2 separate regions of the Homo sapiens genome follow, and region 1 is linked to region 2. Evidence: fine-mapped expression QTL. A gene starts in region 2. The other region holds a variant in brackets. All regions are shown on one strand. Distances are between the middles of the regions.

Region 1 (4,388 bases), 180 kb before region 2:
GCTCTGAACTCACTCCATCTGTTTAGCACTTGTTGGGCCTGCGAGGATGTGCAGACACTCTCCAGTGCTGACATGGGTGGCCACCTCCCAAAGAGCAAGAAACAAACCTGCTTTCATCAGCTGCTGGCATTTATGAGGGTCTTAGGATGAAATTAAGATTTTTTTTTTTTTTGAAATGGAAGTTTGGAATAATAACAACCTTGTAGGGGGAACATGGTACTCATGTTGCTTGGGTAACATGTGGTCTAAGTAGCCAGAGGAGAAAATCCCCGGAGAGGGTTATCTCATAGATAACACCAATCATATCTGAGAGGCCAGTGAGAACAATCTTGATGCCTGCAATATTTTAATCTATAACATGGGATGTCACCAAATAATGTGCTGGAAAACAACAGAGAAACATAAAGACACCAAATGAAAAAGCAGATCTCCCTTCAACTTTGAGAATGAGAAGTTACAAATCATCAATGTCTAGCAAAGACATATTCCAACAACGGTGCTCATTTTTTTGAATAAATAAACACCAGGGAACTAGCCTGGGAAACCTGAAACAGAACCACATCTTCTCTCAACTAAAGGCTTATTAACAGCATATGTGGGGACAAAGGATAGGAATATTCTGAGGGCAAGGAGAGTAAAGTTGCATTTATTGATCAAACTCCTACCAAATGCCAAGCACCATATGCATCGATTATCTCATTTAATCCTCTCAAAAAACACGACGGTACATATTATTATCCCAATTTACAGATAGGAATCTGAAGTTTATCAAGATTAAGCAACTTTCCAACTGAACAGGGCTTTAAAGACAGGACTCTAATTTCTAAGCTGTGTTTTTCTGCTATATGCATTGCCCATAGCCCCACAAAAGGACAGAAAGAAAAATCTAGAGGAAAAAAATCAGATCTCTGAAAACTGTCTATAAATTCCCCACAATAAAAATAACAATAACCATGATATCCTAGCACCTCTTTAGGTATATGTGTACATAACTTGCAACATATATATATGAGAAATTACAAATCATCAATATTTAGAAAGATGTATTCCAAAAAAGGTGCTCATTATATACATATGTGTGTGTGTGTGTGTATGTGTGTGTGTATACACACATATGCTTAATGTAATCTTCTTAACAATCCTATCAGGTATCATGATTGAGGTGAGGATGCTGAAGCTGAGTTAGGGACATGCTCAGGTTTACACAGCAACTAAATAACCAAACTGAGATCCAAACCCAGATTTGTCTGGTCCCCAAACCCCTGGACTTCCTATCATATTGTTCTACCTTTTCCATCCCTTTCAACTGGATGTGAAGGTGAACCAGAATCTGAAACTTCAGCTCTAAAGAGGCTGAAAAGAATATGTCGTTCCCTGCCCTCCAATACCTCTGCTTTGTACCTACTGGACACATGGCAGGCCTTGGTGGCCAGTGTCCACAGTAAAAGTTAGTGACTTGAAAGGCATGTGCAGCAGGCAATGCCAAGGGAACTTTTCTTTCTTCTTTTTTTTTTTAAAGAAACACAGTCTTGCTCTGTTGCCCAGCCTGGAGTGCAGTGGTGCAATCATAGCTCACTGCAGCCTGCAACTCCTGGGCTCAAATGATCCTCCCTTCTCAGCCTCCCAAGTAGCTGGGATTATAGGCATGAGCCACTGCACTTGGCTCCATTTTTTTTTAACAGGA[A/G]CTCTTGTGAGTCAATCACACCTCATAGATATGCTTGCCCCTTTTCCTTTTAGTGCAGGCTCTGGCACCAGCGTGACTCCCTGAAACCCACTTGGTGGAAGGGATGACAGCACTGGAGAGGATGCCATGAATATGGAAGTCCCTGTGTTTTAATTTGCCTAAAAATCTGCATGTTGTTAAAACAAATGTAGAAATTAGCCATATGGGAACCTAGCTTGGGTACATATCTTCATCTGTCACCACATTTGGGGGTGGAAATAGTACAGGATCATTTGCAGTGCTTAGACTTGTAGAGAGGGAGAAAAGTCCACTTGGAAGCAAGCTAATGCTGCACACGTTTATGCGTTTGACCTCACAATATGGTAACTAATGATGGTTCTGCAAATAGACTTAGGAAAATAGATGAATGATTACAGAGGGAAGAACCCAGCAAGGGTGATGAGCTTCGTTTCGCCTATGTTAGCCCTTAATCCTTAACAGGACAGCCAGCACAAATTCTATACAGCTTGCCTAAATAGATGAAATCTACACCTTATTCTGAATTCAAATCTTAGACCCAGTGCATATAATACACTGCCTTAATAGCTTTCCAAACTCTCATTTGGCCTCAGTTATACAACCAGCTGACACTGAAAATAATTAATGCCCTTTAGGACTCGCATCTGCTCCTATGGTTCCAAGTCAAGGTTTTTAATTGGGCTATTTTGGCATTTGGAGACAATGGCAAGGTGAAATAACCTTTCTTTAATATTTTTGAGGTCAGCAGATAGTCCTGCCAAAGGTCATCCTTCAGGTTCACAAATGAGTCATTTGTATCACCTAATGCAATCTGTGACTCGCAAATTGCACTGGGCTGTGTTAGCGTGCATTAATTAGTCCATGTGATGAATACTGAATTCATCATTACCAGCCGGAGCTTGTAGAGATGTACCAATACTTGTTTTGGCGGTTTGTGGTTGCTTATTTTTACTTTGCACTCCACTTCCAACCCTGGTCTGAGATCTTCAACACCGCAAGCCCAATAATTGGCACAGCAAAGTTAACCCTCTCCCTTATGACATGGCCAGAACCTGGGGAAAGATTCCCTGGCACAAACATATTGCAAAGCACGAAGCAACCACAGTTGCTCTATCTTTGGTTTATTGAACCTGTAAAACTCAGCATCAAAAGATGATTCCCTTTTGCCTCACGATCCATAGCATTCCTAATCTTCTAAAAGAGAGAGAGAGACAGAGACAGACAGCGAAAACTCCTGTTTCAAACACCTTGCTCAGAGCAGTGCTCTTAGTTGTGCTGGGTTCTCTCAGCTGCTTGGCAGCTACTGCCTATAATGAAGGCATTATTAATTTCAGTTTCAGGGGATAGAAAATCAGGATGTGGACACTGTATGGCTATACCATCTGTGCCGTTGACATATATTGATTCATACCTTCTTCCCATCTGTCCTTGACATTGTGCAGTAACAGAGGTCACAGTCTTCTCTTTCCTAGAATTCTCCCCAAAAGCAACTTTCTACCCAGTATCCTCTCAGTGATTTGATTTGGTTGCTATTGTGCACTTCTAAGGAAGCTGGTGGCAGAGTGTCTGCATCTGTCATCCCCCAGGTAAGTCCCTTTGACCCAACATAACAATAACCGACCACATCAAAAGGGTGTAGGAAAACAATAGTTCTTCCACTTTGCTGGAAGACAGAGTCAGCAAGGGGCAGACATTTAAAATAGATCTTCCATTTCTCCAGAATTTTGTGGATAACAAAGAGAATTAATGCATCACTCTAGAAATTAGCACATTCATTTTATACAGAAAGGTACAGTAGCCAATTAAATTACACACAGCAGATCTAAGGGTTGGAAAAGTAGATTTACGGAAAGTTAAGAAGCTGAAAAACAGCAGGTGGGTATGTCTTGCTCTACATTATGGACACTAAGAGAAAAATTAAGTCTCCAGTTACTGGGATATATGTGTGTCTTATGTTTAATGTGCATTTTTTGAAAAAAGAACTGTTCAGGTTATTGTCACTTCAGAATTGAGAAAGCCTGAGCCAGATTTCAGAGGGATTTTATTTCAAGGACTATCATTTATTTTATTTTACTCTTTTTTCTAACCACTCTCTGTCCAGGTGGAATGAGACACACAAATAACTGAATTCACAATGGACTTTTTGAGAATTCAAGTGGCCACTTGTATCTGCAAAGTAAGAAGTAAGTGGCTAATTGCAGCCGAAATGAATGGCTGAGCCTACAATTAGCCAATTAGGTGGTCTATTAGCAGGAGGGGCGATTTGAACGCAGAAAGCCCCTCCGTGGAGCCCGAAGGCCTTGGGGCTTTCCAGCAAAACCCAGGAAGAGCGTTAGCCTCTTCATCAAAGCAAAGCTAGACTGCTCAGAATCAGAGAACTGTCAGTTTATTCCTAAAGCTCTAAAATTCTCCAGGTCCAGGTGATAAGTAACACCCTTCCAATGGGGGTAAAATTTTTTTAAAGATTTTAACAGCTGCCTGAAAAGCTTCCTTTTCAAAGTATATCCCCAACCTTACTTTATCCATAAAAATCATCTCCTCCTCTCTCTCCTTCTCTTAAAATTACAGATTAAAACTTATCTGGCATTCTCATCCCATATTTAATGATGAAAATGAATCCATCTTTCAGTTATTCCTTAGAGAAAATATTGCCACTTTCAAAATATTTTAAGAAATTTTGCCTTAT
Region 2 (4,388 bases):
AACACACACGAGCGCCCCGCGCACACACTTTCACTTCCAGCCCAGTTACCCAATTCACTCTCACTACCACCCACCCCCATCCTAATACTCAGTGGGGATGGGAACAGTGTTGGGGACACTTGTCCCCAGCCCAGGGAAGCTGGAGATGATGTAATTAGTCATCTTCCTTCTTCCCCTTCCGCACTCTGAGTCCGATAGGGCCTGGGGCCACCAGATCTCCCACTGTCCCAAGCTCAGCTGGTGGCTTAATGGGGGGAAAAAGGCCATTTCTCACTTGGGACCAGGAGCCTGGGAAAGAGCCTTGGGTGTGCCCAGGAAAGTTCCCTCAGGTCAACCTCCAAGGGCAATGCCTCCAGGCCACACAGTCTAGTGTCTAGGGAGCTGCGAGTGAGAGAAGGGCTGGAAGGGGCCATGGTGACAGGGGCTGGAGAAGACTTTTGGGAGATATCAGAATTAAAGTTGGGAGTTGCTATTCTACCGGTAGACTAAGAAAAAACTGAAAGACAGAGAGGGAGGGAAGGAGAACGAGATAGCAGAAATAAGAGAAGACTCAGGGGAGAAATGGGACGAAAAAACAGGAAAGCCAGAGAGGTAAGGAAAGGAGAAAGAGGAGAAAGGAGGGAAGCTGAAGAAAGAAGAGAAAGAAAATGGAGAGAGGAAGGGAGGAAGGAAAAGAGTGAGGGAGAAATTAAGGGAAGGTGGGGGAAAGAAATGAGAGAAGGAAATGAAAGAAAGAAGAAAGAAAAGAAGGCAGGAAGAGAGACAGGAAAGAACGAAGAACGAAAGAAATGGAAGGAGGGAAGAGGGGAAGAAAGGAAGAGGAAGGAGAAGAGAAGAAAATAAAGGGGGGAGAAAGGAAAGAAGGAAGAAAGAAAAAAGAAAGGCAGGAAGAGGAAAGAGAAAGAAAAAGGAAAAAGAAAAGGAGGAAAGAAAAAAAGAAAGAAAAAGAAAAAAGAAAGAAAAAGGAAGGAAGGAAGAGAAAGAAAGAAAGAAAAAAGAAAAGAGGGAAAGGAAGAGCGAAGGGAAAGAAGAAAAGAGAGCCGGCCGGAAAAGAAAGAGCAATCACATAAAAACATAAAACACAGATCTCCAACATGCTGTGTTGAGACGCCTCTTCTGGGTTAAAACAAAATGAAAACAGTCACAGACGAGGCAGGGGAAAGTGCTGGCAAAGCGTGGGCTCCTCGCAGACAGCTCCAGGTCCTCCGGCCGCAGGCGACGAAGGCAGAGCGGCTGGAGAGCGCGGAGCCCCGGCGGAGAGCGGAGCGCAGCGGCTGCGGACTCACCCCGCCGCCCGGCCCCGCGGCAGCAGCTGCCGCTGCCGCTGCCGCCTCCGCCTCCCGGCTCTCCCGCTCGCGGCTCACCTCGGCCGCGGTCCCCGCGCAGTACCCACCTCTGCGCCGCCGTGTTGGCGTCCAGCACCCCGGCGCCCTGCATCCACGTCCGCACCGCGTTCATGCCGCTGCCCAGCGGCTCTTCCTTCATGCTGCTTCCACTCCGTTGGATGCTTTCCTGAATCCCAAACATGAAAACAACCTTTTCTTGTGGAAAATCTCCTCCCCCTTGAAAAAAATTAAAAAAAAAAAAAAAGGAAAGAAAAGAAAGAAAAGAAAAGAAACAAAAACGCCAACCAGAGATTTTTTTTTTTCTCAGACGATGAACTCGCACTTAGAAGATCAAGGCGGGCTGGAAAGCAAATTTTTAAAAAATGTAAACCTCTGCTCAAAACTGAGCGATAACCCGAAAAAAAGAAGAAAGGGAAAATCCAACGAAAAGACCAAAATAATAAAATTAGAGATGTATGCTTGGCTGTTGGGGGTTGTTTGGTTGGTTGATTTTTGGTTTGGGTGCTTTTTTTTTTTTTTTGCTTTTTTTTTTTTTTTTTTGTAATGATCACAGGCCGGTGGAGGACAGGAGGGGCTGGAGTTTCCTTTTGTAGAGGTACCCTTCACTTGAAGAAGCAGGAAGAAAAAAAAAAAAAAAAAAAAAAAAAAAAAAAAAAAACCCTGATGGCAATTTAAGAAACAATAGACTCAACTCGCGCTGCCGGCTTTGCTACTTCAAGTGTCATTTTCCACAACCAGGCAAGTTTTTTCCTCTCTCTCTCTTTTTTTTTCCTCCTTCTCTCCCAACCAAAGATGTTTCTTTCCTTTGCGTGTAGATGAGGAGGACGCTGGTTGCCGTAGACAGATACACCAGAGAGGGTGGGGGGAAGGGGAGAGAGGGAGAGAGGAAAGGGGGGGAGGGAAAGAGAGATAGAGAGGAGAGGGAGAAAGAGAGAGGGGTGGACCCTGCTGGATGGAGATTCTGTTTTCTCCTTGCTAAAATAGAAGTGATTTGCAGGCTTTCCCTATGGAATCCAGTTTGACTTTCCCCAGAGCTAAACACAGGCACACTAACCCCAAAGGGAGGAGGCGGGGCCCGCGCATCGAGGCCCCGCCCCTTCATTTGCATAACGTCATCTTTCCGCCCACCGCAGCCAATCGCGGCCCGGGAGCCGGCTCGCTGGCGGCGCCAGGCCACGCTCTCTCATTAACATCCCGCTCCCGGTGGCGCAGGGGAGCCGGCCAAAGTTCCTCGCAAAGTGGCGAGCGAAGGAGCGCTGAGCACTGACGTCTGGGCTGGGGAGGAGCGGGTCCGAGCGAGGACGGAGAGGGGACAGAGGGAAAGGGAGGCGGGTGTCTTCCTCAGGAATTTGAGCTGGGGATCTGCATCCTGGCCATTGCAGTCCTTTAGCATCCTCGCCGCGCCCTGAGCGCGCTGGAGGCTCGCAGGCTGCGCCCTCCCAGGGCTGATGCCGCGTCCTGCTCCGCCGTTCTGGGACGTCGGGGACAAAAGTGGAGGAGACGGGAGAGCCCGGGCAGAAAAAGCAGGACGCGCGTCCCAGGTGCCCACCTCTTCGCTTTGAGGCGGGGGCGGTGGGATGGAATATGGGTGCGCGAGGTCGGGGCTGGTAACTCTCGGAGGGGCACGGCCTCCACGCTGGGAGGGATGAATGGACGCTGGGCCCCGGCAAATGAGGCGCTGTGGGTCCCCAGGAAGTGGGGTACCAGGCTCTACTCCCACCCCGGCCTCTGAAACGCTTCTCTCTCGGCCGCTAGCCTAGAGGCTGCCAGGGTTGGGCACTGTTCTCACTCACACGCTCACCTCTCTCGGGCAGTCCTCGAGATATGTGAATGGTGGAATGAATGCTCTCACTGGGGCTGTGTCAGGATGCGTTTTTAAATTTTCTCAAATTAAATGCCAACCCCTCATTCCCCACCCCAAGTAGTTGGTTCGTTTGTTTTTAGAGTAACTACCAAAGCAACAGCAATGTTAACCGTCCTTGATTAGCTGGTTATTTGGTGTAGGGTTTTTCTCATCCTCCTTTATTCTTCCTGTTAAAAAGGAGGGCTTGAACAAATCCTTCCTAACTCTGTCTCTGCCATATGAAAAGGGTGGGGGGAGAAGAGAAGGAAGGTGGGGAGAAAGGACAAAAAAGGAAGAAGGGGAAGAGAAAATGGGAAGGAAGGAGGGAGAGAGAAAGGAGAGAAGGAGAAGGAACGAATGGAAATGGGAGAGATGGAAGGAAAAAGGGAAAGAAAAAAGGACGAAATTGTCTCCCTCCTCAGGCTTTTCAGCATGTATCTTTGTGGCTGGCAAAGGAAATAGCTAGAAGTTTCTGGGTAATGTACCCCATCATTTTTTAGCAGGTTGTAACCTCTAATAAGCACATGGTGAACTTCTGTTTCATTGCCCTCAAAGGAACTCCCTGACTGCAGCCAAATCTGCTAAGGACTCCTTCGGGGAAATTATCTGCCAGAAATCCAGGTCCCCTTTCTGCTGGCCTTCCTTGGTCCTTTGATTTAGGAAGCTCATGGGGTCAGTGATGGAAAAGTACACATGCCCATGTTGAATAGAGACAGGCAAGAGTTATGCTTTGTGCTCTTGGCAGAGCAGTGGAGCCACTTCCTGATTCCTAAACTGGATGAAAGAGTGTGGTCCTGGCCTGCAGTGCATGGCCACTGTCCTCAAACACTGCTTTATCTCCTGTGCACGAGGCCTGCCCAGCTCTCACACATGTAATCTAGACTTCTTGTGTGCTGAGCACTTTCCCCTGGTACCATAATTAATGCCATCTCTTCCAGGACTTCCCTGAAGGGATTGGTCTGATCTTTTGGGATCCCCATAGCATTCACAGGGGTTCCTAACATAGCGTTCATGTCGAAGAAGAGTATAATGGTGGAGAGACTTGAAGGGCTGTAGGTTTTTGGGGATAGGTATGTGAACATTTTCAGTCTCTATAGTATTTAAATGCACAATTGAAACTTGGCCTGCTAAAAACTTTCTAAAGCTCCAAACTTAACCTTATGCTCCAGGTCCAAAGGGGTCCCCAGAGTCAATCCCTC

Alleles and levels. Alleles are on the strand shown, and positions count from the first base shown. SD is a standard deviation of normalised expression in the study named.
With allele G in place of A in region 1, the expression in testis of the gene that starts at base 1,965 in region 2 is lower (moderate effect, 0.51 SD a copy in GTEx).

The links. PIP is the estimated chance that this variant, and not a neighbour inherited with it, causes the effect.
Region 1: its variant is the best candidate, but not a certain one, in a credible set for the expression of EBF1 in testis (GTEx, PIP 0.87).

The regions. Positions count from the first base shown.
Region 1 is chr5:158,919,079-158,923,466 of GRCh38, forward strand. All of the region lies in intron 6 of EBF1 (EBF transcription factor 1), which reads right to left. Among named protein-coding and RNA genes, the nearest start is that of EBF1, 180 kb to the right of the region's middle. The variant A/G (reference allele first, on the strand shown) is at 1,685.
Region 2 is chr5:159,097,952-159,102,339 of GRCh38, forward strand. EBF1 (EBF transcription factor 1) reads right to left here and starts at 1,965. Exons shown (of 16, transcript NM_024007.5): 1 at 1,394-1,965. The coding sequence starts at 1,527. It overlaps LINC02202 (long intergenic non-protein coding RNA 2202), which reads left to right and starts at 2,532. Exons shown (of 3, transcript NR_109890.1): 1 at 2,532-2,887. RefSeq lists enhancers at 1-495, 2,245-2,873, 2,874-3,500 and a silencer at 1,138-1,427.